Linked DNA regions of Homo sapiens: region 2 is reported to be linked to region 1. Evidence: microRNA targets listed by miRTarBase, many of them from high-throughput screens and not tested one by one. Region 1 holds a microRNA gene; the other region holds the end of a gene's coding sequence.
Evidence for each region. Region 1 holds the annotated microRNA hsa-miR-1245a (AAGUGAUCUAAAGGCCUACAU, at 7,912-7,932, shown strand). A microRNA usually pairs through its seed, bases 2 to 8, with sites in the 3' UTR of a target mRNA and lowers its output. Matches are read on the target gene's strand: a 7mer-m8 pairs with bases 2 to 8, a 7mer-A1 pairs with bases 2 to 7 and ends in A, and an 8mer does both.

Region 1 (12,419 bases):
CCATTAACTCCATAACATTATCATTTTTTTCATCCTTTCACAATGCCTCATTAGAAAACATACAAAATTAAGTGTCAGATTTGTATTTACCACACTTCTAAATTGCGTAAAAATATCTTTACCACAATCAGTGATTAGTGGAAAGCATGGTGAAAATATTTGTAAAGTGTGCTAGTCAGTTCCAGTTGCAATGAATTATTTTGAGGGTCATGGAACCTCTTTGAACTTTCTGTTCAATCTTGGGATACTTCCCAGCTGCAAAACACAAAGACAAAAATTCAGAGCCTTAGCTTTAATAGCAAAGAATAGGTAGGAATCAAGATACTCAGTTTTTTCTAACTAAATTTTACTGGAACTTTACTTTACTAAATGTCAAGAAAATATGGATTTTGTACAAAAGTGAAAATTTTTAGTTATTTACAATTCCAATGAGTAATTTTGAGAGTCATGTAACCTCTTTAAACTTTCTGTTCATTCTTGGGATACTTTTCAGTTGCAAAATACAAAGATAAAAATTTAGAGCCTTAAGTTTAATAACAAAGAATAGATAGGAATTGAGATACTTCGTGTTTCCTAACTAAATTTTACTAAAACTTTATTTTACTAAATGTCAAGAAAATATAAATCTTGTACAAAAGTGAAATTTCCAGGCTAAAAAGAAATGGTTATTAAAATGGTTCTATAAGAAAAAAACAAGGGGTCAATGAACTCTACCTTGGGGACTAAGGGGAAATTAAAGAAAAGGGTCTTGAAGACTTGGTCATATAATCACTCAAAAACTGGACTATCATGTCCCACTGCCAGTGTAATTTGCCTCAATCCTGGACATATCTATGGTTAAATATGTTTAAGTCCTGCAAGTACAACATGACTTTTTCAACCATATTTTTGGCTCTACTATGCACATACTAGTATTTGTTCAAATTCTTTTAAAGGAAACACAACTCTTCAAATGTGGTTTTACCTTTATCAACTGAGTGAACTGATCAACCTCTCTGGGAATAATAAAGAAGACCTGCATTGTATTTTACAGTTGTATTGGTAGTTCTATTATCACAAGTAGTTTTTAAATGGCTTTACAGTGATTTGAAATCTAGAAAATGTCCCTAAAAATAAAGCATCTTGCTGGCTTCAAAAAGAAAATCACACATAAAGCCGCACAACAAAGGGGAGGGGAGAGGAAAGAGAGAAACATTGAAACATTTCTGTTCCATGTGTTTTCCATGGTGGAGATAATTGATTTTCTTAGTGCTGTTGTAGAAAGCGCTGCTGGCATTCACTGGCCTACTGAGTTCATCACAGCTGTGCTTGTGCATCTCTCTCAAGCTCCACTTTCCACTGAATTGGAAAAGATTTGAATTTTTGGTTGATAATCTGCCACACCCTTGCTTTGCCTCATCTTTCCAGGCACTCTCTTTGTTAAAGGAGATCCAGATTAATCAGTGCTTTAGTTGGTGCAGGTATTTAGATTTGTGTTAAAGCTCCAAATGCAATCCAAAAAGCAAAATGACATGTTTATGTGTCCTGGTTAACATCAGTGAAGTCAGGGAAGTATGGGAAGAAATGTGTGGCTAGATAACAATGAGGACAGCAGTTCCTGGATGGCATAATAGGATTCAGAAGTGTATGCATTTCACCTAGTTCAGACCCTGTATTAAGAAATGCTTTGACCCCGTATTAGGAAATGCTTTGACAGGAGGTAGAAAAATAGGATCTGGGACACAGAATGCAAAGGATCCTAGTGCAAAACCTCCATATTCGAGGTAGTGAAGAATCGTAAATCAGAATATCTGGAGAATGAATTCTCTAGGTCTCTCCTGAAGACCTTAAAATACAACAATCCTTCCATATGCAAAACATCAGCTAATGTTTCTTAAGTGAGTGCATCAATCATGAATTTTTCTCATGAGTATAAGGCTTTTATTTGAATAGCTAAGCAAATTAAGAATTTTAGAACAATAGTAATTTTATTTATAATGCCTAAAATAAAGCATAACAAGCATTATTTTAAAAATAACATTTCTAATTTTTCACAGTGGAAAATAAATCTAATGAAGAAATTCAATAAATTTCAGCTTTTATAGACCACCTAAAACAATGAGAGAAATCTAATATAGATATATGAATTCTACGTAGATACAAAGACATCATGAGAAAAACTATGTTTCTGAATTGGTTTGAACACAGGAAATATTTTTTGTGTACAGGACAAAGATGTCTGAAAGACAGAAAGATGCATATAACAGCCTTTCCCCAGCATCTCTACTGTGATCCAGTAGAAAAGCTTATATTCATGACCATTCTCAACAGTTACTTTTCTCCCACGCCCCCAAGCAGTGACTCTCCAATCTAAAATAAAGATACACAAGAGGTTGGTCTCGTTCTAGTTTTCCTTTCCTGTCATCAAATGATGTCATCTACATTGAGATGTCTTGGTTTGTGTCCTTGTGACTGAAGATATAAGAAAGCTTGGGAGGCCGAGGCGGGCGGATCACGAGGTCAGGACATCAAGACCATCCTGACTAACACGGTGAAACCCCGTCTCTACTAAAAATACAAAAAATTAACCAGGCGTAGTGGCGGGCGCCTGTAGTCCCAGCTACTCGGGAGGCTGAGGCAGGAGAATGGCGTGAACCCGGGAGGCGGAGCTTGCCGTGAGCCGAGATTGCGCCACTGCAGTCTAGCCTGGGCGAGAGAGGGCGACCCCGTCGCAAAAAAAAAAAAAAAAAAGATGCAAGAAACAAGAAAGCAAGTTTGCCACTGTCCATGCTTACAGGATTCATGTACACCTGGGAATATACATATGACATGAGTTGAGTGAAAATTTAGTAACACAAATTAGAAGAAAGAGAAAGATGAAAATTAGTTTAAAGGAGGTAATTTACTTAAGGAGGAAAGTTTTGCATTGAGGCATAAGGAAGTGACTTCCATTAATTGGTGTGAAATGGGGAGAATTTTATGTGCACAGGCATAGAGACGGACATGTTTAGGTGAAGGTGAAGAAAATTAGTTCAAGTGACCTTGATTAGAATTGAAATGTCCACCGTAGATTATAGAGATAGATGAACTAACTATGAACTGATGATTAGGGTGTAAAGAGATATCTCCATTGCCAGATATAGCCTTATACTGTGGACAAGCATATTTTTCCTGCAGAGATTTATCAAAGACCTATAAATGGTATTTGCCCCTCTTTCAAATATGACACAAAAATTACTGCTTAGATAGATCCAGAAATACATTGGAAAGTTTTGTGGATGAGGATCTGGAAAGTATACACATAAAAGTCTAAATTAGAAATATTTATACTAATCTTTAGAGTAATGCAGAAAAAATGACCACTTTCTCTGGTACTCTTTTGCTATTCTATGTGATAAACTCTTTCTCTTCCAGTTTCCTAAAAAGTTATGTCATGAAAAGGCTGAATTTTTCTCTAGAAAAATCTGCTCTGTCTTTCCCAGGCAGCATAAAAATTGGAAATCTCACAAGAAAGCACTCTGGCTTGCTAAAGAAATTTGTGAGAAATGGAAACAGCTATAGATAAGTATCTAACTTTTAGGAAGCCATTCAAACATTGCTGAAATACTTTGTCTTTTGATATTTGCCTGAAACTTAACTTCTAGGACCCAGGGTGGGTGGATGAGTCGAAGGGGCATACGGTGGCATTTCTTTCCGTGAGTCTCTTACAGTCTCCTATTTAAATTGAGTTAGGATTACTTCTGGCAAAATCCCAACATAAAAATCTTCTAGGAAGATCAGTTCTGTAAATTAGACATACTAGATAAATGGGCATCAAGCAGTTTTTCAAAATTATGCAGTTGTTAACTTCATAAGGGGAAATAAAAATGTATGCATTTACATTGTATGTATTAAAACAAGGCAGAGCATTTCTATACGTTCCTAAGTTATACAAACATATATGTAAGAGTGAAATATGTAAAAAAACTTTTACATAAGCAGATGCATACAAACTCCAGATGTGCTCTTTTTCTTACTGTGGGTTGTGTCTTCTATAAGGGAAAAAGAAATATTTATCATTTCTTTTACTGCTGAGGGGATGGGTGCGGCTCTCATATTTCAGAAAGGGGCTGGAAAGTGAGGGAAGCCAAACTTTTTCCTATTTAAGGCCAAAGCAAAGGAATCTCAGTGGCTGAGTTTTATGACGGGCCCGGTGCTGAAGGGCAGGGAACAACTTGATGGTGCTACTTTGAACTGCTTTTCTTTTCTCCTTTTTGCACAAAGAGTCTCATGTCTGATATTTAGACATGATGAGCTTTGTGCAAAAGGGGAGCTGGCTACTTCTCGCTCTGCTTCATCCCACTATTATTTTGGCACAACAGGAAGGTGAGTAGGTACTGATTTCAAGAAACTTTATGGGATTTTTGTCTTTCTTCTCCTCACAAAGAGGGGTGTAAAGGGGAAAATCAGTTGCCTGATTCAAGATAATTTCCTCTATAAGCTCCAGATTGTGAAACGTTGAACTGACCATGGCTGTGCTTTTTACATTACTTGAAAAATAATCGCGTTATGTGTGTTTTTAAGAGTTCTGTGGTTAAGATAAGATGTTCTTGTACTAACTTGTTTTCATGTTAAAGGCACTGGAAACTTTTAAAAATGGCTTTAAAATTTTTCCCTCCTGGATTGTTAACATCTTGGAATACTTCCCCAGGCAGTCTGGAAGTTATTGGTCTCTTGCAATAATTTTATGTTCCTCTTTGTCTGCTGGATTCTTTGTAAGGTTAGAATATTGAGCATTGTTTTCTGAATAAGAATGCCTTTCAAATATCATGGATTAAGAACAGTCTAAAGGAAGATTCTACGCATTATCAGAATCATTGAATATATTTCTGTAAAATGGCTACAAGATACCTATAAACATTCTTCAAAGGGATCAAACTGCTAAAATATTTTATTATTCCTGTTTTTATTTTGTTTCAAGAATGATTGATTAATTCATCTTTTCTAGTAGCTTGATATTAAGGGACTAATATTTTCCACATATTCTACGTTTTAACCACATTCGCATTAATGAAGAAAATATTTTTTAAAATGTTTCAACAGGAGGTTTGACTTTGCTGCAAACAAGGTAAAGATACTAGTACTGTTTGACTTCAGAAAGCTGTTTTGCTATATTTTCTAATAATTGCATGTAATGTTTTTCATATTCTAATTTCCCCTAAAAACACATTTGTCTCATTATTTATGTGAAAATATTCTTTTATTTACCATAGTCATGAAAATGCTGAACAAATTGGAATACAAACTTCCATAGAAATAAATATTTAAGTGCTAAATGTAAAGATAGCTAGGAGAAATTATTAGACAATTTTTATTGCACATAACTAAACATGGTTACATTTAAACATATAGATTTTGCAAAGGACACTGCATGAAAATTTGGTTTTTGTTTGTAATATCAAATGTATTTGTTGTCCTCATAGCTAATACATGTAAATGTGTGTATGAGGGGAGGGGTAGATATACAATGAAATGTCTTCAGTTATATTCAGCCCATGGACACAAAAGAAAAGAAACACCCATTTTCCTTGTTCCCTTAATTTCCTCTCCTCCTTACCCCTCCTCTCCTTCGCTTTGCCCTCCTCCTTATCTCTCTCCACCCCTTTTGGCTCCTTTAGACTTCTCTTCACTCATCACCCCACCCCTTCCTAGGCAAGCCCATATCTACTCCTCTCTCCTCCTCTGTCTTCCCTGCCTGTTACTCCCTCCCTACTCCCCATGTGGCCTCCTTATGCCTCCATTTCTTTTTTTTAGTTCTCTCTCTCCTTGCCTCCTCACCCTTTCTTTCCCCTGAACTCTCAATCCTTCTTCCTTTCTCATTCCTCTCCCCTTTTCCTCCCTATCCTGCTCTTCCCAGGAGATGCTACAACTCACAGTCCTTTTTTAGGATACCAAATGACTACTATCCCCCACCAACCATTTATTGAAAAGACTACAAACTTAGGGGTTTTAGCTCAAAAAATTGCAACATATTTGTAGTTGCCTCGTGGTTGCAAGCTTTTTATAAGCACTGTGGCTATTTTTCTTCCCAATCCAACTTTAGTGGGGGGGTGTTTGCCACTTACAGTACCTTGACATCACATTAAGTTCTGTTTATTTCCCTCTTTCTCTTTAGATGCAAAAAATAATCAATAAGTATAAAATTTTGCTGATATGTGTTTGTGTGTTCTTAAGCTCAAAAAGAGTTGAAAGAGAACTGTTCAGCCTATTTTTTTTGTCATGAGTAAAAGTAAAGTTGAAGTGACTTAAGACAGTACATCTTATGTTCCCTGTGGGTTTTACAAGGAAATTCTGCTATTAGATAAGCTTTGGAAAAGTTACAGGAGGTATCTGAATATACAGCACACTGAGAGCTGTCATAAAGTTCTGGGGTGGGGTTTCTTATATATGCCCTCATAACTTCAGAGACGGCACAGCTCTAATGAACACTCACTTCTAGTTCACTCACAGGCATTTTCTGGATACAAACAAGTCCTCAAAAAGAATTTTGGTCGTCTTACAAATTTGTGAACATTGTATTTAATTCATGTGTTTTAATCCACCAATGGAGAAACATAGTCTGTTTTATATTTCCTGTAGATTATAAACATGCCAAGTTTTAAGTACAAAGATGCGTCACCTAGTGGCTGACAAGCCAGGTTACCATTTACATAACGAATGCCAATATTAATGTTATGTAGCTGGCTTTGGTAGTTTATAATGAGCTTTAAAAAATTCATATGCGTGAATTTTAAATGTTAACACTGCTCTCCTAAGGAAATTAGTATGTTACGGATAAATATTGCAAACACATATACTGACACGAAAACACAATGGTAACAATATTCAGAGTCTTTTTGGAAATTAGCTTAAATGTTACGGCCACTTAAAAATTCTACATATGACTATTGTTTAAATACATTTTTCATGTCTCTGATGTAGTCCTTATTTGACATAAGTATTTTATTCACTGCTTAATTGTTAGATAGATTATAGACAGCTGTTACTAAGTAATACTGCTCCATTAGGGCAGAAACAGAAACTTTATTTTAATTAAATGTGTACTAATGTTTGAGTTTCTATATTTTGCTACAGTGATAATTCCAGTAAAATAAACTGTAGGCCTCTAGTTGTTTTAGAATTTTAAAACTGTAAATGGACTCAGAGAATCAGTTTCTTATTAGACGTCATGAGAGTATATTTTTTTCATTATGCTTTAAGAGGGAATTTGTAACTTGCTCAGGTAACATTCAAGTTTTCTGGTTTGTGTTTGTCCCTACAATTAAACACACTGAACTAACAGGAAAAGGTTACATACATTTAGGAACAATTGCACTTTTAAAGGGAGAGAATGCATAGTTGCTCACATATCTCAGTGTCAGTCACCTAACATGGATCAGTGCTTTATTTGAGATTACAAAACTAGAAAATGACGGAGTCAAGGCTAGGACCAATATTCTGTTCAGTCTTAGATAATTATAGAATACACATTAAAATCAGATATTTGAATTTTCTTAATTTTGTAACTATTTGTCATTGAAAGGAGATACTAAAAAAATTATATATCGTCCTAGAAAGTACATGAACTAATAATGCATTTCTAAAGGTGAAAAAAGAATAGGTATTTTTCTGTTTAATATTCAATTTTATAGAGAGTAGTACGTTAATTTTTTTAAACCCCAGAAGCTCAGGATCTTATCATTTTAAAAGAAATTATCACCAGTTCTGTGTGAGTAAATAAAGTATTATAACACTTTGTGTTTTTCATCCATGATACCTTGTATTTACTTACCTGAGCTTTTTTTCTAGGGAAAGAAAAATGCTCAGGTAATAACAGAGCCTTGAAAAATTTGGATTTTCAAAACTACCTATTTATGTATAGGCCTTTAGATCATCTGATGTTGAATACTCTTTAAGTGATCTAAAGGCCTACATATAAAAAGGTATTTTTATTAAATTCTGGAATTAAACATTTCAGCATTACAAGAAAAGAAAGCAAATCCACTGGAACAATTCTGGGAAAGAAGGAAAGACTGTGATTAAATGCCTCTTAACTACTTCAGATTCCTGGATTGATGTCTTATCTACAGGCTTCTTTTTAAAAATCAAGAATGATTGGCTGTGAGTTTACCAGGATTATAGTTGAGGCTAAAGGACAGCTCCTCAGGAAAGCCCCTGTTCTACATCTACGGTCACATGCTGGACCTTGAGTTGTCACTCAGAGAAAAGAGTGCCATCTACCGAAACTCCACAGTTTCCATTGTGAATGGCTTCTTTGGTGCAGAGTTCCAAAAATTATGTAGCCCAGCTCTTTAATTTTGTAACATCTAATGATATCACCGCCTTGAAGTGATTAAAGTAGATTGCTTAAAGAATTAAAGCTTTAAAGATGAAAGATGTTATTGCTTTTGCTGGACATGAGGAACAGTTGTAAAGTTTCCAGGTCTACAATAACTTTCTGGAACCCTCTCAGTGAACTGTTTCTTGTAAAAGTTTTCCCTAAGATAAAAGCTCAATCCCATTGTTTCCACACTCAAAAAAAAAAAAAAAAAAAAGATCATATAGTGTAAAAAAAAACTCTCCAGACTTTTCAAAGGGGAAACTTTGCCTGTTTCATGTCAAGATGACAACGGAAAAAATGAGATAGCTATTCTTACATAAATCATTTGTGAACTGCAGTTGGGGGAGTTACATTAACCACCAGAGTTTCAGTCTGTGTCTAATGAAAACACAGCAGAAGTGGATTCCTTTCAGATTAACTAATAAAACCCTTGTTTTTTTCCATGACTGAGGTCAAGCACTGCTGTTTAAAATGTAGTCTTAATGAACAAAATGAAACGTTGAAAGAGGACGAGTCAAAATGCCCAAAAGATGTAAACATCAAAGAGAAAAGATCCAGAAATTATTAAAAGTTAAACTTCCCTTGAATTCTAGTATTAAGAAAGTACTGCTTCAGTAAAATGGCATATATTTTTCTGAAACTGTTTTTCTATAGTATTTTGTGTGGAGGATGACAGAGACTGCATTTCTCAAGTAAATTAAAATCACAGAAATACTCTTTGGAGTTGCATAGCATGTTCACAACGTTCCAGTTTCATTCAGTGAAAACTTCTGATGAACTTAGATGTATATTAACATGAATCATTTAGTAACTATATTTTCTGAAAAACAGTGTGTTAATGAGACATCTTAAACATATTTTTGCATTGGATGCAGAAGTCTTTTCTGTCTGGTACTATTGTTGTTAGAACCCTACTTTTTTGTATATAGCAAAATGTATGCAGGGTTTCTGAGTCACACATTTATTCTGTTGGTGGTCTGGATGTCATCAGGGTAGCTTTAGAGATATAACCCTTCTTCATAAGGTCAAGAGAAAATAAACAGGAGAATTTAACTCCAGATGGCATCTTCCTGTTTTGAGGCCAGATAGAAAAATATTTTGCAAAGAACTGTTGTCCTTCAAAATATACCTATCTAGATTCAGATTTTAACCTTGCAGGGATAAAAAATCATATGGGACAGAGCTTTGGAGTTGGCTTCTTTAATCGTACTCAGTTTTGAAATAGCAGAAAGAAAATAGAATGCAGTAATTAAGAGTATCAAATTTAGAGAAAGCCTTCTTACACTCAGATCTTCTTTTTCACCCTGACTGTGTAACCTTGGGAAAATTACTTAATGTTTCTGCAGTTAAGATTCCTCATCTGTAAAATTAGGATTATGACAGCTGTAAGCTCATAAGGCCTTTGGGAGTATGAAGCAAAATAGATATTCAAACTACTCAGAGCAGTCCCTACAAGATAGGAGGTACTATAGCACTAGTTTTACTAACGCTGGCAAATAAAATTACTCTAAGGAAGAAATTAAAGTACTTAGTAACTTAGTGATAAGGATGGTGAAATGTAAAATTTTATTTATAAGACTATACAATTTAAAGTTGTTTGCCAAATGTAATAAGACAAGTAGAATATATTCTCTTCAATGTTTTTATAATTTGACACTAAGAAGATTTTATTATATATGCAATTGCTGGTGGTTAGATATATGATACTTAAAATTTTCTAATTATCTAATTATTTTTATTTTTAACAGGATAAAATATTAATCAACTTAAAGGACATTTCTAAGGAGATTGAATTCTAAAAGATTAATCTTTTAGACAATTCTAAAAGATTAATCTTTTAGACAATTCTAAAAGATTAATCTTTTAGACAATTCTAAAAGATTAATCTTTTAGACAATTCTAAAAGATTAATTGAATTCTAAAAGATTAATCAACTTAAAGGACATTTCTAAGGAGATTGAAAAAGCATATATCTATAAAATATGAAACAAGAAAATATCTACAAATGATAATTTATCAACTTTTTTTCCTGGAGGTAGCAAGAATAAATAAAATCTTATTTTCTATGCAAAACAGTGCTTTTAAATTAAAATTATTCACCTAGAATGTCTACAGATACTTTCTTCAGAGTCCTTTTTGTTAAGTAATCTAACATATTTTAAGATACTCTGATAAATACATAAGCAGCAGAAAAAATATTTTATTAAAATTTATGTTTTCCAAACAATATCATTTAAAAGGCAAACCAAACATTATTTCAATTGGAAACTATATGAATGCCAAATACCCACATGTACAAAATATTCAGCTTTCTAAAGTAATGAAAATAATTATGATAATTTATATATCATATCTGTGATTCTTAGATTTTCAGATTATACAACATCTTTTCCCAGATAAGGATTTAGTAAGAAGAGAAAAGGAAAAAACATTCACTTTTCATTCAAGCCAAATTAATTAATTTAATTAGGTGCTTTAGGGAATAATATTATTGCTCCAAAAATAGTATTAAGACAAACATAACATTCATTTTTTGTCCAAACAATATGATTTCTTCAAGTCAGCATGATTTAACATGAAGAATGGAAACAAAAAAATCACAAAATAGTAAGCTTTATGCACATCTAAAAATATAAAATTATGTTATTTGGCTTTATTTTTCTCTAAAATTCCAAAATAGAAAACTAGGAAAGAAGCAGCTAAGAGTGGTTTAAGACATGTGTTAGCTTCAATATGTTTTATATTATAGATCCCAGCAAGGAGATGATTGAGTTTAATACATTGCTTGTGTGATCACAAGTAAATTTCTTTCAGAATTGTACTTCGTAGTAAGGAACAGAAACACCAAATGACATGGGAGATGGAATTTAAAATTAATTATAAATTGGAACAGAGAGATTTAGTTTAAACAACTAAAATAATGGAAATAATTGGAAAGTCCATTACTTTTCAATAGTAGAATGAAATTATTTGCCTTTTATTTAATATTTTTGGAAAAAATTAACTTATTTTTTTAACCGAAGCTACTCTGAATGCAGATATCTAAGAAATGAAGAGAATAATATGAGATGACTTACTTCTAAATCCCATTTTCTATTCTATTTCTAAATGTTGCAAATGGCTAACTAGAGCATTTTTATTCCTCTAGAAACAAAACATTCTTTTCCTTGACTTTGCCATGATTTTCGCACATATTACTAGGTATTAAATGAAGGTCCATGAAACATCAATCTAAGAGCTTTAACTTTCAGTAGAATATATTGCTAACTATATTTTGTCATGCATGGAATAATAAAGGAAGCTATACAAAACTATTTTTTTCAGCAAAGGTAACTAAGGTAGAAAAACAGAGAAAGGGCTAATTTTCAGCCACAAGTTTTTACAGGAACTGACTTCTCAGGAGAGCCAAATTTATTTCAAGTGGATGTGAAATAAGTTATGGCAATAAATAAAGTTGCATTAATTCTTATTTTTTAAACATTCCAACTCTCTTTTTTTTACTTAAAACAATATGACTTTCTAAAGTAAAACAAAACATACATGCACCATGTTGACTGTCATGTGCAGGTGAGAAGAGAAAAATATTTTAAGAATATGATAATTTTTAAAATTGCACTAAAATAATCTTTATATTGAGGCCTCCGTGTTTTAAAAAGTACTATAATATGTTTCTAATAAAATTTAGAAACAATAAGCTAAATAACAACGTTAATACTTATAACATTGCATTTGACCCAATTTTAACAAACTCATTTACAATTTTAATAAGTCAATATTGTGCTCATTTATTTAATAATTAGCAGAACAAATGGAAAGTACTGTATTTCTAATGATGTGAGGACACCCTTAATGAGACATAAACATAGGAGGATGAATACACAGGAGGGAAAAGTATTTATGTTAATTTCTAGGCAGATCAAGAACATATAGAAGATACTTAAAATAGGAAATGTTTGAGCCTAGCTTTAACTATTATCTTCATTTGTCTTTAATATGCCTTTAGTATTCAATGGCTGTTTTTCATAATCCACGTGCTGTATTAAGTGTGAAAAGATATGCCTGATCCAGAGGCAATGAGCTA
Region 2 (12,419 bases), not on the chromosome of region 1:
CTTCGACTACCCAGTGGTAAGATACATTGAATTTTTAAAAACTGTTCATTACAAGCATTTAACAGATGCACAACAGTAGACAGAATAGCATAATAAAATCTCATGTACCCATGACCTAGCTTCAGCAATTAACATCTTGTTGTGTCTACAGCCATCTCCTGCTGGATTATTTTAAAGCAGATCTTAGACGTTATAGTAATTTATACTTAAGTATATGTTTAAGTAATACAGGCTCTAGTTTTTAAATCATAATCATGATATTGTTATAGAACAAAAGGAGCCCACTATCTGATGCATTAGAAACCAGTACTATCTAAGCCACCAGGTTTTTGAGAAAGAAAGGCTTCCTCTTTCAAGTTGACCAACAAGGAGACATGAGTCCAGCTCAAATCTGTGCTGGCTTTAAGGCAGCAATTTTATTAGAAAAGGTTTAGGGGATAGATTCTGGGATTAGTAGGTGATTGGTGGAAGGAAAGGGGAGGTCTAGAAAGTCCTTGGGCATGTGCAGTTATCTCTTCATGTTATTTCATGGATCACGTGTGTAAATTTGGGGGAGTTAGAATGAATTGTGGTGGAAATTGGGCCTGTGACATCAGTAAGCTGGTTCTGTGCAGACTCTAGTTGGCCATATTGTTTAATCTACCATTCTGCAAACTCAGGAATTTCTGTTAGTTGTTGGTATCTTTTAACTCTTGGGGACACAGTTTCAATACCATATTCACACCTAAGAAAGACTAGTGGTAGTTTCTTAAGGTATAATTTTTAGTTGGGGTCCAAGTTTTCTAATTGTCTCATCTGTTTGTTCAGATCCACCACAGTCCTTATATTGCATTTAGTTGATAATCTCTTGATTTTTTAAATATATAACAATTCATCCTCCCTTTTTCCCTTTCATTTTTTCAATAGAATTTTCTATATTTTGGATTTGGCTTCTTACATTTCTAGGTGGTGGTAAACATGCTCTTCCATTCCCTATATTTTCTATAAACTGATGGTGAGATCTGTAATAAAATCAAGTTTAGATATTTTTTTCCCAAGAATTCATGGTATTGATTTTTTTTTTTAAAGTAAATGTGATCATGTTACTTCTGTAGAGAGAATACAATTTTATTCTTAAATATTGGGGATAAGGCTGGGTGCAGTGGCTCATGCCTGTCATCCCAGCACTTTGGGAGGCTGAAGTGGGCAGATCTCTGGAGGTCAGGAGTTCAAGACCTGCCTGGCCAATATGGTGAAACCCCATCTCTACTAAAAATACAAAAATTACCTAGGCATGGTGGTGAGCATCTGTAATCCCAGCTACTCAGAGGCTGAGGTAGGAGAATCGCTTGAACCTGGGAGGCAGAGGTGAGTCAAGATTGTACCAATGGATTCCAAACTGGGCAACAGAGTGAGACTCGGTCTCAAAATAAAAAATTGGGGATAAAAGATAATAACATAAGGAAGTCCCCTTTTGGCTGATGGAACTGGATCACGTAACAGTGTTGTGGTTCGTTCATCATAGTCCAAGATATGATCTGATATTCTGCAGTTTATGAGGGTCAATATTGTTTCAGTAGGAGATTTGCTTTATTACTAAAATCCCTAACTTTTCTCATATCTGTATATATCCAGTCTTGATATGTGTCAAGTATATTAAGTCTTTGAGCCCTCCAACCTGGTCCAGTGGACTGGCTTCTCTCTAGGCATCCTGTACTGCTGTTGTCTTAGGATCCCCCTTTACCATAATTTTGGAGACTCATTTTGCCTTTCTCTAGGCTTGGATCTCCCATGTTTTCCCCTTACTTGGTTTATTTTTATTTTGTTGGAGTACATTCTTGAACTTGGGGGCAAAAGAATACAAAAGGTAAATTTTGATACCTTGTGTATCTAAAATGTGTATATTGAAGCCCTATACTTGATAGTTTAGAAATAGAATCCTATGCTGAAAATCATTTTGCTTTGGAATTTTGGGAGCATTATTACTCCACTGTCTCCTAGCATCCACAGTTGAGGACTCCATTGCTTTTCCACCAGTCTGATTCTAGGTTTCTTATGAATTTTGTTTCTCTCTGGAATCTTTCAGGATCTTTTGTCTGTTTTCATTGTTCTTAAATTTTACACAGATGTGATGTGCTGAGTCTGTTTTCATTATGGACTTTCGGTGAGCTCTTTTAATCTGAAATTCTGATTTCTTAGTCCCCATTTTCCTTGAATTATTTAATTTTCATACCCCTCCATATTCTCTCTTCTCATTTTTGAATTTGAATAAATTTGGGCTTCCCTTGATTTCTATTCTACTTGTTTGTCTTGTTGGTATACTTTCTGGAATATTTCCTAAATTTTACATTCCAACCCTTCTATTGAGTTTTTCTTTTTTTTCTTGAGACGGAGTCGGGCTCTCTTGCCCAGGCTGGAGTGCAATGGCGCAATCTCAGCTTACTGCAGCCTCCGCCTCCCAGGTTCAAGCGGTTCTCGTGCCTCAACCTCCTGAGTACCTGGGATTATAGGTATGCACCACCACGCCTGGCTAATTTTTGTATTTTTAGTGGAGATGTGGTTTCACCATGTTGGCCAGGCTGGTCTCGAACTCTTGACCTCAGGTGATCTGCCTGCCCTGGCCTCCCAAAGTGCTGAGGTTATGGGCGTCAGCCACTGTGCCCGGCCTTCATTTTGGATACAGGTGTTTTTTGTTTGTTTTGACACAGGGTCTTGCTCTGTTGCCCAGGTGGGAGCACAGTGGCATGATCATATCTCACTGGACCCTTGAACTCCCCGGGCTCATGTGATCCGCCCACCTCAAACTCCCAAGTAGCTATGACTACAGGCCCACACCATCACACCTGGTTAATTTTTTTACTTTTTGTAGAGATGGGCACTCCGTATGTTGTCCAGGCTTGTCCTGAACTCCTGGACTCAAGCAATCTTCCCACCTCAGCCTCCCAAAGTGTTGGGATTGGGTAGGAACCACTGCCTCTGGGGTTTTTTTTTTTTTTTTTACACAATGTTTTTATATTTCTTTTGGTTTTTGTTTTCTGGGTTTTTGTTGTTGTTGTTGTTTGTGTTTGTATGTTTTTAAATTTCCAAAAGCTCTTTTTTGTTCTCTGGAGATGATTATAGTCTGTTGCATATAGTTACTTTCTTCAGCTGTCTGGTAATCCTTGGCTGTTTGCGCTTTTAAGAGTGGAATACTATAAAAAACAATTGGAAACTTCAAGTGGGTGGTCCGTGTCAAAATTGGGCTTCACTGTGGGGTGTATCTGGTAGGGATTGTTCTTCAAACAACCCCTCACATTAGTGTCTAGGTATTTTCTTAAGTGTTGACCAGAATTACTCAGAGAACAAAAGTTGTCTGTGCCTGGCGTCCCCTAGTTCAAAGACGCCAAGACTGAAGTCTGTTTTACCTTCAGAAAAATTAAAGGCCTGGCTTGGTGGCTCATGCCTATAATCCCAACACTTTGGGAGGCAGAGATTGGTGGATTGCCTGAGCTCAGCCTAGGCAACCTGGCGAAACCCCATCTCTACCATAAATACAAAAATTAGCTAGGCATGGTGGCACACGCCTGTGGTCCCAGCTACTTGGGAAGCCAAGGTGGGATGATCACTGGAGCCTGGGAAGTTGAGGCAGCAGTGAGCCGTGATTGCACCACTGCACTCCGGATGACAGAGCGAGACCGTGTCTCAGAAAAAAATAATGTTTAAAAAGAAAAAAATTGCTACAGTGCTTTAAAGAGGCAGTTACTCAGGTAGATGGAGTGGGGAAGGAGATTTGAGGACCTAGCTTCTTCTTAGACTTCGAGTCAGTCATCTTCTTCTTAGTCCCTATTCCCTTCCAAAGGTATCTGGTGCCACTAATTTAGTCAGTCACCCTTTGGGGGAGTTCTGTAATGTCAGTCATGTTGCTTCTCATCTTTCCCTGCTTTCAGTTTAGAATTAAGTTTTTTTTTTTTTTTTTTTTTAAATGGAGTTTCGCTCCTGTTGCCCAGGCTAGAATGCAATGGCGCAACCTCCGCCTCCCAGGTTCAAGCGATTCTCCTGCCTCAGCCTCCCAAGTAGCTGAAATCACAGGCATGCACCACCATGCCAGCTAATTTTGATTAAGTTTTCTTGGTCTGCTAACTTAGCTACCACTGTGTTTGCCTTTCAGTTGCCAAAATGTTACTGCTGTTATCTGGCCTTGTGTGTTCATGCCTATTTCCTTTACTGTTTTTATAGGCTCTGAGAATTAAATTTTGTGCCTAAGCTATCTTTAACAAGATGTGATTATACAAATGTCTCAAGCTAAAAATCAGCGGCTACAAATAAAGCTGTAACCAAATTTATGCCAGAGGAATTGTATAGATACCCATGGAGCTTACAAAAGGGGAGCATGATAAGCAAAAAATTGGCAGTTTTTATAGTAGTGTTGTTTCAGGAGTGACAAATAATCTGGAAGACTTGTACATAATGATCACTAGAATTGGGGATAATCTTTTGAGGAGTAGTTTTACAGTAACCTGTGTAAAATCCTGAAGACCGCCCATATTTCTCATCTCTGATGTCATGCTCACTAGATAACTTTTTTTTTTTTTTCTGCAATTTAAGCTATTCTTTTACCAGAAAGGGAGTCCTGGGCAGGAGGCACAGGTTATTTCAAATATTAGAGTGGAGCACTCTACCTAGCGTGCTAACAATAGTGGTTGACATTCTTGGAGCACATACTGTGTACCAGGCAATGCTCTAAGCACTTTATCTATGTTATTAACTCATTGAAGTGTCACATCAGGTAGCTACTAGTTAAAATTCCCTTCTCACAGAAGAGGAGAATAAATTAACGTGAAGTAACTTGACCAATACCACATATTAAGGGGTGGAGCTCCATAAAATAACGTATTAATACAAATTAGTAAATTGGCCTTGTGATTTGTATTTGACTCTGTTCTTGTGGATAATGGGAGTCAAAGAGCCTGATGAATTCCAAGAATATCGGGAAAATCGAGCTTTTGGAACTATAGCAAACACTAGACATAATAGTACCCCTGATTCTAGCAAACACTAGACATAATAGTACCACCTCAAGACACTCTGCCTGAGCAGACATGTGGCCCCTAGGATGTTACTTTTTTATTCTGCTGTCTTGGATCTTATTAATATTTATTTATAACTTGACATTTCCTAAAATTATTCTACGGATTTGACTTTTACTGCTCAAAAATATTAAAATAGTTCAAATGCAGATAGAAAGATTAGCTAGAAAACTGTCAAAACAACATAGCTCAAGTTTGTCTAAGAACAGGTACTTTTGTACTCTTACCTTGACCCTTATTTTGCTTCAGTTGTTCTTCGCCAGGGATTGAAAGGGATAGTGTATGTGAACAGAAGTTTCAAAAAGATAAGTTTCTTTGTAAGTGAGTTCTATAAGAAGGGTGATAGATGATATATATAAAATATCTCTTCATGGCAGGTAATACTGACTGCTTTTCCTCTTGTAATCACTTTACCACTCCGGTATTAAAGACAGTTGTACAGATTCTACTTTAGATTAGAATAATGCAGTAGCTTTTTATTTTCTGTGGCAGGACTGCTCTGAGTATAAAATTTTTTGTAAGGTTGTATTTTCATTACTAATTGAGCTCAATTTTCTGTCTTTTCCTTGCTGAACCAATAGGTCTTGGCTGTTCAACCGTACTTTCTCCAGAAGGATCAGCTCAATTTGCTGCTCAGATATTTGGGTTAAGCAACCATTTGGTATGGAGCAAACTGCGAGCAAGCATTTTGAACACATGGATTTCCTTGAAGCAGGCTGACAAGAAAATCAGAGAATGTAATTTATAAGAAAGAATGCCATTGAATTTTTTAGGGGAAAAACTACAAATTTCTAATTTAGCTGAAGGAAAATCAAGCAAGATGAAAAGGTAATTTTAAATTAGAGAACACAAATAAAATGTATTAGTGAATAAATGCTTCTCTAGATCCATATTAATAAACATGAGCATCTAACCCCTCCTTTCTTAGGCTAGACACCAAGATATTTCAGCCAGCCTTTATCATTCCTCTTACTTTATCCTTTTTCCTTAAGTATTGGTGGTCACTACTATTGAGTTTCTTCCTTAACACTGATTAAATGATCTTAACTCCCTCAGCTAAAACTGGCATTACTGACTCCCAGCTATATTTCTCCAGACTTGCATTTTTTTTTTTTTTTTTGAGACAGGGTCTCACTGTCGCCCAGGCTGGAGTGCAGTGGCGTGATCTCAGTTCACTGCTGCTTTCCCTCCTGGGCTCAAGCAGTTCTCCCACCTCAGCCTCTCGACTAACAGGGACTATAATCTTGCAGCACCATGCCGAGCTAATTTTATTTTTTGTAGAGATGAGCTCTCACTATGTCACCCAGGTTCGTCTCAAACTCCTGAACCCTAGTAATTCTCCTATCTCAGCCTCCCAAAGTGCTAGGGTTACAGACATGAGCCACTGTGCCTGTCTAGACTTGTACTTTCAACTGTCCATTTCTCCCTGTCTGTCCCATGGGCACTCATGAAAAAACAGAATGCTCCCAACTTTATTCATCTTCCAAGCCTGTAGCTCTTGGTATACTCACTGTTGCAAGTCAGAAGCTTGATTTCATCATTGATGTTTTTCTCACGTTTCACATCTCACTCATCACCAAGTCATGTTGGTGTTAATTTCTGATTAACCCTTGAATTTACCGTCTTCTCATCCTCTGTACAAAAGCCTCAAGTGAGGGTCAAATTCAACATTATCCTGATCTAGACAGCCCCCATTCTCAATCCACCCTTTTCCAAGTTGATTGCCCAAGGACTTCTAACAATAAACTCTCTTTTGCACCACAGACTTCTTTGAAAATATACATGCTGTTGACCCTCTCTGTAGAAAACCGCACACATAAAACTTACCAACAGATTTCATTGGTTCTTGGGTTCTCCCGAAGCCTATCCATGGTTTATAGATTAAGAATTGATGAGGTAGCTGGGCACAGTGGCTCACACCTACGATCACAGCACTTCGGGAGGCTGAAGCAAGCAGATCACTTGAGGTCAGGAGTTTGAGACCAGCCTGGCCAACATGGTGAAACCCTGTCTCTACTAAAAATACAAAAAGTAGCCAGCCGTGATGACAGGCACCTGTAATCCCAGCTACTCGGGAGGCTGAGGCATGAGAATTGCTTGAACCCGGGAGGCGGAGGTTGCAGTGAGCCTAGATCATGCCACTGCACTCCAACCTGGGCAGCAGAGCAAGACTCTGTCTCAAAAGGGGAAAAAAAAAATTGCTGATGTGACCCATGAAGGGAACTCATTTTCCTCGTAATTTTGGACTGCCACACATTGGTACCTTTAGTTCTCTGAAGGCCCACGTTTTTATCATTAAGACCTATTTGTTAGCTAGTAGAGCTTTATGTTCGCTGTCCATGAAACCTTCTGTAACCACAGTGACTACAAGTAGTTCTTTCTCTATTGAATTATTAGGTCCAGAATAGAAGATGTCATTGTACACTTTATTTCCCTCACACTGTGTTATGCTCTGATGTGCTATGCTTAGCTATCTGTCAGAGATTAGTAAATTATAAAACTCATGTGTACTACTTAAGTTTATATCTTATGCTAGTTTATAAGAACAATTAAAAGGACTTAGAAGATTAACTTTGGTTTCATGGTCTCTGAAGTCACTGACTGCTATTTCAGCTTGTTTACCCTTACCTAGCATTAAGACTCCATCTACTTCTGTGCAGTATATGAAAATTTTTAAACTTTCATTTAGACTGGTGGATAGGACTGACCATTACAAATTGTCGTTATCAATTTTTTTTCCTTTTTTTTTTTAAGAGCCAAGTTCTCACTGTCTCCCAGGCTGGAGTGCAGTGGCATGATTATGGCTCCCTGCAGCCTTGAACTCCTGGACTCAAGCTGCAGCCTCTCGAGTAGCTGGGTGCATGTGCTACCACACCCAATTATGAATTTCATCATTAGTTTCTTAGTAGAGTCCACATGTCCTCAGTAGTAAGTTCATCAGTGCTAAATATTTGAAGGTATTTCTACTGTTTTGTAAAAGTAACTTAAGCCTACCTGGTCTGCTATCTTTTGAGTATTTATACTTTCTACGGGCTTGTAGGTAAACATAAAAAGAGAAAAAATATCCCAATAATACAGTTTTTAACCTTTTATGATAAAGACATGCTTAGAATTGCTGTTAAGCTTTCTGAGATTTAACCACTGAAACTAAGTAAAAGACAAAGCACTTAGGTAAAGCTTCATTCAGTATCCATTCACCCAATACTGGTTTGATTCTAGGGCCTAGGAAAATAGGACTGAGCAAAGCCCTTGTCCAGATGGAACTTATGTTTTAGAGGGGAAAACAAACCATAAAAAGGTAAACAGTATAAAATCAGGAAAGGATAAATGTATATGAAGAATCAAAATGAGGACGGTGATGGGGATAAGAGGGGAAGGTTTTTGAGGAGAGCAGAGCAATGATGTAAAAGCAAGACACACAGATAGGGAAATAGCTTTCCATACTAAGGGAATGGGAAATAAAGCTGAGTTTTGCCTTGAGGACCTCCAAACATGAGAATTGCTAGAGCTCTGTGAACAAGGATGAGAGTGGAAGACAATATAAGCAAAGGCTACATCACTTAGGGCCTATAGGCCACACTGAAGTGTGACAGGAAAAACTCAGTTTGAGCAGAGGCTTGACATACTTAACATATTTAAAGGTTCTCTGGCTGTTGTGTGGACAAGAGGAGAAGCAGAGATTAGTTAAGAGGCTATTGTAGCCCAGGTGAGGGATGATGTATGATCTTCAACATGTCTAATTTTTTTGTGCCTCAATTTCATGAAATGAAAATGCGACTAATACCACCTCATAAAGTTGTGAGAATTACATGAGTCAATATATGTAAGGCCCATCATGGCACACAAATGTGTTATGTAATATCCATTTGGCAGACTGAAGAACAACAGTATGAATGGAATTCATTCACCATGAGAATTACCTGGAATTCTCTGGGCATGGTAGCTCATGCCTGTAATCCCAGCACTTTGGGTGGCCGAGGCAGGTGGATCACCTGAGATCAGGAGTTCGAGACCAGCCTGACCAACATGGAGAAACCCAGTCTCTAATAAAAATACAAAACTAGCCGGGCATGGTGGCACATTCCTGTAATCCCAGCGACTCAGGAGGCTGAGGCAGGAGAATCGCTTGAACCTGGGAAGCGGAGGTTGTGGTGAGCCGAGGTTGCGCCATTGTACTCCAGCCTGGGCAACAAGAGCAAAACTCTGTTTCAAAAAAAAAGAAAGAAAGAAAATTACCTGGAATTCAATATTGCCATCGGCTGATTTAATTTCTAATATGAAGAAAGGGGCAGTGTGATGTGCCACGGAGCATCCACAACCTGCCATTTCAGCCCAGCCAACCTTAGAAAGCCATTGAAAAGAGTTGTTTTTAATGGTGTTTTTACATCCAGCTTCCCACACCTCAAATACTTGGGGTGGAATTGTTAATCTCACATTGCAGTACAATGAAAATAGTGGAATGGAAATCAAGTTATAAAATGGAGCTAAATATTTCTTCTGCTTGCCTCTGAGTTGATAAGATACCATAAGATACTGTACATGAGGCTGGGCGCGGTGGCTCACGTCTTATTTCTTCTGCTTGCCTCTGAGTTGACAAGATACCATAAGATACTGTACATGAGGCTGGGTGCAGTGGCTCACGCCTGTAATCCCAGCACTTTGGGAGGGTGAGGTGGGCAGATCACCTGAGGTCGGGAGTTCAAGACCAGCCTGACTGACATGGAGAAACCCCCTCTTTACTAAAAATACAAAATTAGCCAGGCATGGTGGTGCATGCCTATAATTCCAACTACTCGGGAGGCTGAGGCAGGAGAATCGCTTGAACCTGGAAGGCAGAGGTTGTGGTGAGCTGAGATCGAACCATTGCACTCCAGCCTGGGCAACAAGAGCGAAAATCTGTCGCCAAAAAAAAAAAAAAAAAGATACTGTACATGGAAGCTTCTCAGGCTAAATCCATTAATATAAAAATACATTGTGGATACTGATGAGATGGCTAATTCTGTCAACTTGACTAGGCTACGGGATGCCTTGATAGCTGGTCAAACAACATTTCTAGGTACATCTGTGATGGTGTTTCTGGAAGAGACTAGCACTTGAATCAGTAGACTTGAGTAAAGAAGACTGCCTTCACCCATGTGGGTGAGCGTCATCTAATCCATTGAGGGCCTGAATAGAACAAAAAAGGGGAAGAAGGGTGAACTGCTGGGACATCCATTTCGTGCCCCCAGATGTTGGTGCTCCTGGTCCTCAGGCCTTCAGACTAGGACTTAACGTTATTGCCTCCCCTGATTCTCAAGCCCTCGGGTTTGGAACTACACTGGCTTTCCTGGGCCTTCAGCCTGCAGAAGGCAGACTGTGGGACTTCACCTCCATTTTGCAGAGCCAATTTCTCATAATCTGTACATATCCTATTGGTTCTGTATTTTTTAGAGAACAAATACAGCCTATTATGTATATATAAGACCCTGGGAATGCAAAGATGAACAAAATTAACCTTCTGCTCTCAATGAATCTTGGAAGTCTCCAGAGGCAGACAATTTCAAAACACCGTATATAGTCTTAATATGGAATTAACAATAGGGTATTGTGAATACACAAAAGTAGGAAGGACTCTGATCTCTAGAAAACAATTGTATACTGTGAATGAAAAAGACTAATTCTCCACAGTCTATACTCAATCTCTCTTACCTTTCCATAATTTTCTTCAGCAAACTTATTACCACCAAACATAGTACATGTTTATTTATTACCCATCTCTCCCAACTAGAAAATAAATGTATTACACTGGGCTGTCTTCTTTGTTGTCAGCTGTATCACAGCAACTGGTGTAATACACGGCACTGGCATATACAAGACAAACACTTGTCAGATGAATAAAAATGCAAATTCCAGGAGGTAGGGGGACACATAACTACATGGAAGTTAGAGGTGAATAGCATGCAAGGGGGCTAGGAAATAAGTATAGAGACCTATGTGAGTTGGGGAGGTGGCAAGCAGAGGCCAGATCACAAAAGCTCTTACTGCTCTTCTTTGGAGTTCGGATTTTATCGTGAGGGTAGGAAAGTGGCATCAGATACATGCTTTAAGAGATCAGTCTGGTTTTTTTCCCACCATGTGAAAACAGAAGATGCCATCTATGAATCAGAGTGGCCCCTCACCAGACAATCTTTCCATCCTTCACAATGTGAGATGTAAATTTGTTATTTAAAAAAAAAAAAACAAAACACCACTATGGTTTGGAAGATTCCTGTTTCAAAAATGGCAGGTTAAGCCCCATATTTATAGGCTGTTTGCCACAAAACTCCATTAAAATGACATAAGAAATAGAAACAAGTCCACAGCAGCAGAATTCTGAGCATTTCTAAAAGCTACAAAGTATATAGGATTAGAATGATATAGAAACGAAAATTGCCAATTCTTATATAAAGTCAATGTTCTAAAAAGTACTACTAGGACAGTGGCTCTTAACTTTTGGGAGGGGATGGTGGATATAAACACCTTTGGAGAATACAGTGGAATCTACATTTTCTCAGAATAACAAAATACAACAAAATTTTGGGTATACCCAATTTTCTCACACAACATTTTGGGTATACCATGTCATCTGGAGCCCCCACCCCCTGAAATCTAAACATAACTGGCTTGAAACCTGTGACAATTCTAGTCAGTAAAAGTCTAAAGCTCTTCTCATGATTTTTACTAATTCACAAGAATTACACCCTCCAGCACCTAGAGTTCAAGCCACCTTTCATGCTCTTTGCATTGTATATACTGGAAGGACCAGACAAAAATATGGCAGGGCACCATATGCCATATCAGGAGCTGGGCAGTTTCTGCCCTCAAGGAACTCAAGATTAGGCAAGGAATGTGAAACAAAAAATGCCAACTATGTGCCAGGCAGTATGCTAGATCCTAGGGATACTGCAGTGAGCAAGGTAAATATGGTTCCTTGGCCTCAGAACTATAGTCCATACAGAGTGAGATAACCCTTAATTATCAGTGCTCAGAAGTGGAGTCCTATAGGGAGTCTCCCAACCTTTTTGGCACCAGGGACCGGTTTCAGGGAAGACAATCTTTCCACAGGAGTTGGACAGCTGGTTTCAGTATGATTCAAGCTCATTACATTTCCCATTAGATTCTCTTAAGGAGTGAGCAACCTAGATCCTTCACATTCCCAGTTCACAATAGGGTTTGAGCTGTGAGAAGCTAATATCACAGCTGATCTGACAGGAGCTCAGGCGGTACTGCTCACTGGCCCACCGATCACCTACTGCTGTGCCGCCCGGTTCCTAACAGGCTGCAGACCAGTACAAGGGTTGGGGACCCCTGTTCTAAGAGGATGCAACCAGAAGGCTGCCCAGTCTGCAAGATCAA

Region 2: miRTarBase lists PAICS as a target of hsa-miR-1245a. Seed matches in the 3' UTR shown: 7mer-m8 at 7,002-7,008.

What each region holds. Positions count from the first base shown.
Region 1 is chr2:188,970,225-188,982,643 of GRCh38, forward strand. It overlaps MIR1245A (microRNA 1245a), which reads left to right and starts at 7,868; the gene lies at 7,868-7,937. It overlaps COL3A1 (collagen type III alpha 1 chain), which reads left to right and starts at 4,149. Exons shown (of 51, transcript NM_000090.4): 1 at 4,149-4,344. The coding sequence starts at 4,266. It overlaps MIR1245B (microRNA 1245b), which reads right to left and starts at 7,937; the gene lies at 7,869-7,937. LOC105373791 (a long non-coding RNA gene) reads right to left here. Exons shown (of 3, transcript XR_007087614.1): 2 at 123-255.
Region 2 is chr4:56,453,746-56,466,164 of GRCh38, forward strand. PAICS (phosphoribosylaminoimidazole carboxylase and phosphoribosylaminoimidazolesuccinocarboxamide synthase) reads left to right here. Exons shown (of 9, transcript NM_001079524.2): 8 at 1-16; 9 at 5,627-10,833. The coding sequence ends at 5,793. It overlaps LOC124900706 (a long non-coding RNA gene), which reads right to left. Exons shown (of 2, transcript XR_007058126.1): 2 at 7,565-9,248. Among named protein-coding and RNA genes, the nearest start is that of SRP72, 7.7 kb to the right of the region's middle. RefSeq lists an enhancer at 5,253-6,452.